2 separate regions of the Homo sapiens genome follow, and region 2 is linked to region 1. Evidence: fine-mapped expression QTL. A gene starts in region 1. The other region holds a variant in brackets. All regions are shown on one strand. Distances are from middle to middle.

Region 1 (5,374 bases):
TTGTAGGTGATGATATGAATCATTTAGTCCATCACTAAAGAACTGAGTGTCCTGGGACCCTAACCATATCAATGCAGTTTTACTTTACTATAGAAAAACAGATGCTCTTTAAAAAATTTTTTAAGATTAGGAAACAAAAAGAAGTCAGAGGAGCCAAATCAGGACTGTACAGCAGATTAAAAGATTTTCCATCAAATTGCTCACAAAAGTGCGTTTGTTTGATGAGAGGAATGAGCATGAACATTGCCATGGTGGAGAACGACTCTGGTGAAGCTTTCCCAGGTATTTTATCCTAAAGCTGTTGCTAATTTTTGCAAAATACTCTCATATTAGGCAGATGTTATTGTTCTCTGGCCCTCCAGAAAGTCAGTAAGTAAAATGCCTTGAGCATCTCCAAAAAATTGTTGCCATGGTCTCTGCTTTTGACCAGTGCACTTTTGCTTTGACTGGACCACTTCTACCTCTTGATAGCCATTGCTTTGGTTGTTCCTTGTCATCAGGATTATACTGGTAATGTTTCATCTCCTGTTACAATTCTTCAAAGAAATGTTTCATGATCCTGATCCCACCCATTTAAAATCTCTATTGAAAGGCCTGCTCTTGTCTGTGGCCAACCTGGGTGCAATGGTTTTGGCACCTATCAAGGAATGGAAAGTTTAATTTCTTTGTCAGAATTGTGTAAGCTGAACCAGTTGACATATCTATGGTGTAGGCTATTGTTTTGACTGCTAATCCTTGATCCTCTTCAGTAAGGGCATTGTCTTACCCTTCTTAGTGTCTCAAACTAGATCCTGTTCAGACATGTTATAACAAGTTAGTATGAGTTTATTTGGGTGCAAAAAAACAATTTGAACTACCAGCCTAGTTTTTTCATAATATGCATTTTCCATAAAATTTTAAAGACCCCTCTCATTTGTGTGTATATGTGTGTATGTGTGTGTGTGTATTCACTTCCTCTTGCAAATGAATCAGACTACATACAAACCTTCTCACATGTCATAAGATATTTTTATTCTGCTGTAATACTCTGTTGTGTTTAACATGGAAGATACAAGAAGACCAGATACAAAACTAGGCTGGACATAGGCAGGTAGGCGTCAGTTTCCTTCTGCCTTCCATTCGCCTTTCAAACAGCTCATCTAACATTTGCTGGTAGCCTGCTTATCTAGTTTAGATTTTTTTCACCTTGGAATTTCTGGCTTAGCTGGTCAGGTGCTATATTTTCGCTGGTACTTCCAATATCCCCTTGAATCATTACTCTTCACTTTTTGATTCATACTTACCAAGACTATAAGAAAGTTTCCTGAGTTTTGATACTTTCCATTTTTATGACTAGAAATAAAAGTAGCCCAATAAATTTTTAAATTACTTTTTCTTCAGTTTGCCTTCTGTTTCTTTTCCAGAAAATTCTACCCCCATTTTCTCCCTTCCCTTCTTTCACACTGAGACACTTCTACATTGCCTGTTATTGTGCCACCTCTGTGTTGTATAGGACATGCTATGGAACAGGCATTTTCTTTTGAGACAGCCCAACTAAATTTTGAATACTGGTTTCCCCTCTAACTAGCTATGTAATCTAGGGCAAATAGTTTAAATTCCTTAAGTCCTGTCATTTGTAAAATGGTAATAATAATGGCCTATGATATAATTAGTCGAGGTATCCTTGTTTTCTTTTTGTTCTTCTAATTCTGAAACTCGACATTTTAATGAGTGGTATTGTTTAGGTTGGATTAGGAACAGTCCCCAAATAAGGGAGAGGCCGACTAGGCATTTTGGAGGCCAAGCTGTGCAAGAAGACCAGAAAGAACAAAGCTCAGAGGTTCCTTGAGCCTGGTGCCTTTAGGGGCCTGAAGAAGAACAGATCTCACACTTTTTCTTTTGCTTTGTATTTAGAACTCTGTTGGGAGAAAGATAAAGGTAGAAGGATGCAAAATTCTAACAATGGGAGAAATGACAGCTGCAAGGAGAGGGAGGGGGAAGCAACTCTTCTAAAACATAAAAGGGTCATATGATATTTATGAAAAAATTGATTATTTCAAAAAGATTCACAATCCCATTCTCTAACACATAATCTATTTTTACTTTCCCGCATCCTATAACTTGGATCTTGATAAGACTCGATTCGTTGTTTTATGTGGTTTGCAATCTCAACAAAACAAAATTTGTGTTCTTTGACAAGGATAATGCATAATCCTGACTTCAGTCTTCCCTTTTAGTCAGAACCTACCTATTTAAGGTTATTTTCCATATTAACTATTGATGATCAAAATAAGTCTAACTCGTGTTTTTCCTAGTGTTTCATAATTTTAGTTACAGAAACGATGCAGATAAAATTAATCTAACATGCGTCTTCCTGACTCTAGTACGTTGAATCTGGCCAGAAAAACCACATTTGCTCTCTACGTAGGTAATATAAATCCATCATTAGCGAAATTGCTGCATCCCTTTGGACTGGGTCTCATTAGCAGAGGTTGGAGTGGCCACTGGCCGGCACACGACACTTTAGGCCAGCAGGGGGCGGGTAAGCTCCAGGGCACTCGCCCGAGCAGCAGGGGGCGTGTCTTCTGCTTCCTTGACGGACAGCTAAGGATGCGGGAGAGGATGAGGTAATAGGAGCCGGGGCAAGGAAGGAGTTGGGGTGCGCGCGCGTGTGTGTGCGACTGTGAGTGTGCCAGTGCGTGCGCAAGCCCCGAGACAATGCGTGTCTCCAGTTCGCGCTGCGGACACTGATCATGCTGCATTAAGGAAAAAAAAAGAGAGAGAGAGAGAAAATTACATTTGGGGGAAGGAGGCTGCAAAGTTGCGGCTGGGCGACAGTGGTGGTCCCGGGGCCGTGTCATGGCGGGTCGCTTCTCTGCATCAAGGAACCAGGGAAACACACGCGGGCGCGGGTTTGCCTTAGCGCCCTGCTTGGGAGGGGTGGTTCATTCTGGAAGGAACTGAGCAGAGCCACAGGCAGGGGGAGCTCTCCCAGCGGCGGGGACTGCAATTCGTGCGGCGAAGGGGTGGGGAGGGAGGGAGAGAGGGGAGGGGACCAGAGCGTGCCATTCCGAGCGCGGCCGTGCGGCGAGATCCCACCCCGGCGTCTGCAGAGGCCGAGGCGCAACTGGTGCGAGGGCTGGGTCCTTGCCTCGCCGTCAGCCCCAGCTCGCGGCCGCCGGGGCTCGGGCCGCGCGCCCGCCGAGTGGCTTTTGCAAGGCGGGGGCCTGTTTGCAGAGAGCCGGGCATTTGCATGAAGCGACTCGACCCCACAGAGCAGCGGCAGCAGCAGCGGACCCCGGCGGCGGCGGCGGCGCGCGGTCCCAGCCAGGCGGCCCCGGTGTCCCGGCCCCGGTGGATGCACGGCTGGGGAGGAGCCCATGGGCCGGAGCTGAGGCTGCCCGGGGCGGCGGGGCGCGGGGCAGGGGGCGCGGTCGAGGCCCGGAGGCGGCGGCGCAGGAGGAAGCGGAGGAGGTCGGGCGCTCGGGGCCCGGGAGGCGGGCCGCGCAGCGCCGCAGCCCCGGGCTCGCCATGCTCCTGGCCTCGGCCGTGGTGGTCTGGGAATGGCTGAACGAGCACGGCCGCTGGCGTCCCTACAGCCCAGCGGTGAGCCACCACATCGAGGCGGTGGTCCGCGCCGGCCCCCGCGCGGGGGGCAGCGTGGTGCTGGGCCAGGTGGACAGCCGTCTCGCGCCCTACATCATCGACCTGCAGTCCATGAACCAGTTCCGCCAAGACACGGGTGAGCCAGCCGCCCCTGACCCCGCCCCGCCTGCTCCCACCTTCCCAACCTGCCAAGGTACCTCCCTCCCTGTGAACCCACCTTGGCCACCTAGTCGGCACTTCTGTGCAGCAGTGTCACCAAGAGGTGGTGGTGGGAGGCGATTCACTCCGCTGAATCCTCGCAGGATCCTCCCTCCCCCTTAAACATCCATGCAAATAGTATCAGTGTTGTGGTTTTGCAAACCCAGCTTCAACCTAGTCGGTAACAATCCACTCCCCACCCCTTTCATGCCCCCGCTTTTCAGCAGTTGGTGGCCCTAAGTCTTTCTATGTAGAAATTCTAGGGCCGCCCCAGACTACAGGCAATCCCAGCCCTTCGCAAAGGCTTCCTGCCCTCATCCCGTGGCGGCCGGCACCTTGGCTGACCTGACCCTGTTTTGCTTCAGGCACGCTGGGGCTTGCCACACGTCCCCTCACCCCCGATCTCACTGCCTCTGCGTCTCCTGTGTGGGATGCCTCCCCGCAGCTGGGTCCTGGGTGTGGGAACTGGGGGAGGAAGAAGGGATTCCCCGGAGGTTCTCGCTACAGTCGGGTAAGGGAAGCGCCGGGCTCCCTGGGAGGAGAGACTAGGGCTGGGGTACCCTGGACGCCGCGGCATTGGCGAATGCCTCTGCTACACACTACATGCGCGGAAGCAACAGGCCGGAGCAGATGGAGAGAGGAGGGGGAGGCTCGGGGCTTCGGAATGCATGGCAGGGAAGCCGCTCCCTTTGTCTGCGGAGGAGGAGGACGCAGATTCCTAAGGAGAAACTGTCCCCAGGCTTCCTCTTGAAACCATAGCCTGTAAGGAACCCATGGTCTCCTGGAGCGCCAAACTCCTATCTTTTCATGAGAATCAAGTTGTCACTGTAGCCAGCACAAACCCGCTTCCCAGCTGACCTGCCTTTCCAGGTCAGAGCCAGGAAGGGAGCCTCCAGGATGGGGCCTTGGGGGGTGGGGAGTGGGGGTGCTGCCCAAGGGAGAGCAAAACTGCCTCTCTTTGCTCGGTCCTTGCTTAATCGATGACCCGGGAAGAGTTTCTGCCTCCGTCAGTGACAGGTGGGGAGGGGGCCATTGTTTCTGGAATTCTGGCTCGGCTTTCCCAAGAGTGCAACCGAGGAGCCTGGAGAGGCCGGTGTGCTGGGGAGGACGTAGAGAAGATGACTCGGAAAGGCCCTCCCCAGTGAACAGCTGTTTGAGCAGAGTCTCTCTGCTTCCTTGGAAAGCCCCCACATCCTGTGTGCTAATTAGGATTGTCATGGGAAAGGGGTATCTTTCCACCCTCATGTCCCCATCTTTAGTCATAACTCCCAGCAACCCCTTTGCCAAGGACTCTGCAGACACTGGCTGATTGAGGAGAGCTTTCTGGGGAGAGGATTCTGGAAGTGTTAGAATCTGGAGGGGCTTCAACCGTGTGTGGAGCTGAGGGAGACTGGGAGGAGCAGAGAATAGAGAGGAATGTGGGGAGATTGAGAAAGAGGATTAAGTGTGGCTGAGGGGGAGGGAGAGAATGTCATTGCGCAACTTGGGTAAAGGTTGTGGAGGTGAGGGTGGAGGCATCAGAAGGTGAGGGTGGAGGGGGTGTGTGTTGGGCGGAGCTGAGCCACGGAGGTGGGACCAGAGAGAGAGAGAG
Region 2 (5,374 bases), 33 kb after region 1:
ACAAAGTGCACTCTTCTCAGCTTGACATATAAGACCTACTACAGTGTGAGTTAAACCTTCTCCTCACACCAATTTCTCATCCTTATCCTTCACATTTGCTGTTCCAGGACCCTAACCTTGGGCTTCCTTGTAGATTGAAGTATAATTAGAGGATGGGCTTTGAAGCCAGACCAGCCTGGGTTCAAGTCCCATTTCTGCCATTTACTAGCTGTGGGAACTGGTTGGCTTCATGTCTTGAAGTCTCAGTTTCCTAATCTGTAAAATAGTGGTGATGATTTGCATCTGTATGGACAGGATGTTGGAAAAATTAAATGAAAATATCATTTGTAAAATGCACAGCATAGTGACAGCAATTGTAATTTATCCATGCCTTGGGTTTATATTTGTTTACTATGTCTATACATCCTTCTCTATTGATATGCCCCCAAATCCTTCCCTTCCTTTACTACTCAGCTCAGAAGCAACCTCCATGAATTCTAGACTGATTCCCATCTGAGAGTCAACAGAGTGGTGATTCAGACCATGGGCTATGGAGTCAGGCAGTCCTGAAATCAATCCCTTAACCCCACCGCCCCTAGCCACTTACTAGCTATAAGACCAAGGCAAGTCTTTTACCTTTTGAGCCTCTGTTTCCTTGAGAGGGATGATGAGAGTCCAGTTTTCTGTCATTTAATGACAGGGATATCATTATTATTAGACAGCTTCATCATCATACAAACATCGCAGAGTGTACTTACACAAAACTAGATGGAATAGCCTATTACACAGCTAGGCAATATGGTATAGCCTATTGCTTCTAGGCTACAAACCTGTACACCATGTTATTTTATTGAATACTATAAGTAGTTGTATAATGGTAAGTATTTGTGAATCTAAACATTGAAGAGGTACAGTAAAAATACAGTATAAAAGATAAAAGTGGTATATCTGTATAAGGCACTTACCACGAATGGTACTTGCAGGACTGGAAGTAGTTTTGGGTGAATCTGTGAGTGAATGTGAAGGCCTAGGACATTGCTGTGCACTACTAAAGACTTTATAAACACTGTACACTTAAACTACACTAAATTTATTAAAACTACTTTTCTTTCTTCAATCATAAACTAACCTTAGCTTATTGTGACTTCTCCATTTAAAAACCTTTTAACTTTTTTCACTTTTCACCTGTTTGTAACAACACAGCTTAAAACACAAACACATTGTACAGCTGTAGAAAAATATTTTCTTTAATCCTTATTCTATAAGCTTGTTTATTTTTAAAAACTTTTTTTTTTTTTACTTCTGAAACTTTTTGTTTAAAATGAACACACGAACATATACCTTAGCCTTGACCTACTAAGGGCAGAATCATCAGCATCACTGTCTTCCACATCCATATCTTATCCTGCTGGAAGGCCCTGGGGACAATAACAGGAGTGGAACTGTCATCTCTTATGATAACAATGCCTTCTTCTGGAATACCTTCTGAAGAAACTGCCTGAGGCTGTTTTACAGTTAACTTTTCTTTTCGTAAATAAGTAGGAGTGCACTCTACAATAATGATTAAAAGTACAGTATAGTAAGTACAGGGCAATAGGAATTTCTCAGCTCTATTGTAATCTTGTGAGATCACCATTGCATATGTGTTCAGTCATTGACCAAAATGTCACTATGTGTGGCACATGGGCATACCTATATCATCTGATTACTGTAACGATTATATGTCCCAATGCCCAACACTGAGAAAGTAAACACTCAGGAAATAGCAGCTCATATTTCTAATGTCTGCTTTCATTACTAATACTATTATGGTTTCCTCTCCTCCAGCCCATACCATGTTTACAGTAGTTCAGTTTTCAACCCAAGACATTTTCACTGGATGCTTTTTCTTCATGCTGGACACTACTCTGACCAAGGCCTGGAACAGGGCATTAGCCACTAGTCTTGCTCAACAAACATTTTTTTTTTAATTTAACTGATTTAGAACATTCTGCAAGCCCCAAAACTTTCTTTGAGCCTCAGTTTTCTCACCTCGAGAAAGTCAGAGTGCTCCAAGATGTCACTAGAAAAATAGTGCACAGCTTCAGCTTTGGATAAATTAATACTACATTGAGGTAGTGGTGGCAGTAATGAAGGGCAGAACTTCAGAAGTTCTCAGATCATAAGCGCCTTCAACTCCTAGATCCTGTCTTTCAAAATGCAGCCGTTATGTTGGCAGATAACATTTATCAATTAGTGCGTTGTAGGCACTGGTGTGAAAATACTTTTCATGGAGTGTCCAGTAAGATGTTCACAACGTTTAGAGGCAGATTGTACCATTGCCATTTCATAAAAAAATTAATGTTCAGAGAGGTGCTATAACTTCTCCAAGGTCACACAGTTATTCAGTGACAGAGCCAGGACTCAGCCTGTAGCTCCCAAACTCCAAGTCCAAATCTCTTTCTTTCCCCTGGGCTGCTTAGGGTATCATGATGCAGGAAGGGATGGGGCCCTTGGGAGGATTCTCTACCGTCCAAGGGATAGTCTTTGACTGCCAATTAATGTCTGCCTTTCATGTCCCACTTTTATCCCTCTAGGTTCTGAAGCTGCTGCTCGTGGCCTGGGATCGCCGCCTCATTTTTGCCATTGGCACCTCCAGCACCACAGGCGAGTCAGACACCGTCATCTGGAATGAGGTCCACCACAAGACAGAGTTTGGCTCTAATCTCACTGGCCATGGCTACCCAGATGCCAATTACCTGGATAATGTGCTGGCTGAACTGGCTGCCCAGGGCATCTCTGAGGACAGCACTGCCCAGGAGAAGGACTGAGGCCAGAAAAGCTTTGAGGTGGGAGGGGCCATGGAGACTGCAGGACAGGAAGTGAGGAGAGTGAGTCAATGTAGAAGAAGTTGGTGTCCTGCCCTCCCAACTTTCTATCCTCCCCTCC[T/C]GCCCTGTGTCCATCCCTCATCCCTCCCAACCACAGTGGGAGCCAGACTGAATATAGCGACATCATTCATAAATCTCATCCAACACAAAGGGAGATGGGATGAGGGCCATCCTGGGTCTGTTCCCATGGAGTTTTTGGTGCTGGGTAGGCAGGAATCCCCTCCCTACCCCACCTCCCAAGTAGGGGCATGGTCAGCACACCTAGGGTATGGGCAGTGCTTAGGCACTCCATATCCTGGCTTTGGGAAGCCGGGGTTTCTTGCCTCAGCCGGCTTCTTGCTACTTCCACTCTGCTTTGAGACTGGAGTTTCTGCTATTCTCCCTCTGCTGGAGGCAGGGAGCTCTCACTGTGCAAGGTTGGGGGGTGGGCAAAGGGGTGAATCACTAAACTGCTGTGACATCAGAAACTGATGCCTTGGTGTAGAGCAAGGAAGCACTTCTTCCCAAGAGGGTCGGAGAAGGAAAAGCCTCTGGGAGCACATTCTGCTGTCATCACAGTCCTTGGCTTCTCTGGGCCCTCCTCTCCTCCTCACAGCTCTCACCTGTCCAAAGAGGCATCTGGTTCTCTCATGTGGATGGATGGACTCTGGGGTTCCTCTTTGGAGTGGCATCCCATGATGCTGTTTCTAGACCCTCTCTGATCAAACCAGAGCCTGCATCCCACTGAGCATCTGAACTGTCCTCAGGGAGAGGAGCCCACAGCCTTCTTCCCAACTCATTCTAGACCAGCTCAAAGATTCCATGAGTTTCATCGAGTCACTGTGAGTGGAGCCCATGCTGGGCTCTGTGCCCTCTGTGTCTGTGCATGCGCGTGTGTGTGTGGGCGTGTGTGCATTGCTGGGCCAGCTTGAAGGGAAGGCCCGTCATGTCCCTGCACTCTGTTTTGCAAGATGCCAAACCCCAGTTCTGATGGGGCTCCAACAGCCAGGCTGTGGTCCTTTGACGTTCCTCACCTGTTGCCAACCTATCCCGTAGTGAACTGAAACCCCAATGAAGACAGAACTGTGCCTGGGGAGATGCAATGAGGTGAGGGCTGAACTCATCCTTTTATATTTCTTTTCAAGATTGGATCAGAGCTCATCTCCATCCAGTCTTGTTTCTATGAAGGCTTCAATCTGTTTCCATGCAAATTTGCTAATCAGAGCCCAGAGCTGCTGGGTCCCTCATCTCCCTCATCTATTATAGATTGACTTACAGCAGGGAGAGAATCTCTTTAGCTCATTCCTAATGGAGTTGGGATCACAATATGGTCTGGTCCAATCTGCATCTTGTTGTGTCCCAAGACCCTATCTCCTCCCCAACATTCTTATTGCCTTTGGCTCCCAGTAAGGAACGAATTGGGGGCCAGGGAGGAGAACAGGGGGGATCAAGAAGGGAAACCCAATTCCCCCTTTGAAAGTGGGTTCTTTGAACTATGTGTTTGGGGGAAGTTCCTCTGGATACTAATTTGAATTTATATACCTCATGTTTTGGGGGTTTGACGTATATATATATATATATATATGCATATATATTTCATAATATTTGGAAGGTTTTTGATGCTAGAAAAATGGAAACAAGAGAACCTTCAAAAATGGTACTTAGATGGGAACTGGAGGCCAATCTTTCATAAAGCCAGCCCCATAGCTGCTTGCTGTTAGGCCTCCAGCCATTTTGACATTGGGGTGGATAGTCGATTCACCTGCCTGTCAGTCGATTCACCTGCCTGTCACCCAGTTCTGTGGATGTGCTGGTGCTGAGCCTTTGCTCTCTTTCCAAATGGTTACAGGGATGTTGATCAGCTCCACCAGAGGGAGCTCTGATGGGAGGAATTGCTCTGCCATCCTTGTCCCTGTGTCTCCTGTCGGCAGGCAGCCATTGTATCTCACCAGCAGACCAGGAGACTGGTCCCAAGGTTACTGCACCACAGGGCAATTTCCTGCCATAGTTAGGAAGGAAACACCTGAACTAAATGGAAGAGACATCCCTGCGGTGTTTAATATCACACCCATGCCCTTTGTCAGGTTACCATGTACAGAGATTACTTGGAGAGCCTCATGCCGTCTCTACCTTCGCACACTGGTCAAGTATCTGCTGAGCTTCTTGGCCGCAAGGATGCAGAAATAGGCTGAGGGTCCATGGGAAGAAAGACACAATGAGGCAGTAGGAGGTGGGGAAGAAAAGAAGACAGACTTTCAAAATGGAATTAGGCACTGGGGAGAGATCAGTTTCCCCACATCAGGGAGAAGAAGGTATAGGTGGGGAAGGGGGTGGCCAGGAGCAGAAGGAAGAAGACTCAAGATGGAAAGGGAGCCGCTGTGCCTGTGGCAATACCACTTGGAGAGGTCGACTTCATACCTTCAAGCCTTTTCCCCTGGGCTTTTGATTGTGTCTGTGCCCCCTTTCTTGTCCTCTCTGCAGATGCCCAGTAGGGGCTACCTCATCCTCGTGCTGTTCTTGTGTGGCTTTCTGGGCAGTAGGGATCTTGA

Evidence for each region. PIP is the estimated chance that this variant, and not a neighbour inherited with it, causes the effect. A credible set is the group of variants that fine-mapping cannot tell apart.
Region 2: its variant is the best candidate, but not a certain one, in a credible set for the expression of DTX4 in subcutaneous fat (GTEx, PIP 0.78).

Annotation. Positions count from the first base shown.
Region 1 is chr11:59,169,086-59,174,459 of GRCh38, forward strand. DTX4 (deltex E3 ubiquitin ligase 4) reads left to right here and starts at 3,047. Exons shown (of 9, transcript NM_015177.2): 1 at 3,047-3,721. The coding sequence starts at 3,511. It overlaps LOC124902601 (basic proline-rich protein-like), which reads right to left and starts at 4,360. Exons shown (of 2, transcript XM_047427951.1): 1 at 4,180-4,360; 2 at 990-3,645. The coding sequence starts at 4,360. The coding sequence ends at 2,837. LOC124902675 (a long non-coding RNA gene) reads right to left here. Exons shown (of 4, transcript XR_007062682.1): 4 at 4,614-5,374. RefSeq lists enhancers at 2,184-2,724, 2,811-3,105, 3,733-4,561, 4,004-4,113 and silencers at 2,984-3,553, 3,614-3,663.
Region 2 is chr11:59,202,121-59,207,494 of GRCh38, forward strand. DTX4 (deltex E3 ubiquitin ligase 4) reads left to right here. Exons shown (of 9, transcript NM_015177.2): 9 at 2,556-5,374. The coding sequence ends at 2,789. Among named protein-coding and RNA genes, the nearest start is that of MPEG1, 8.1 kb to the right of the region's middle. The variant T/C (reference allele first, on the strand shown) is at 2,908.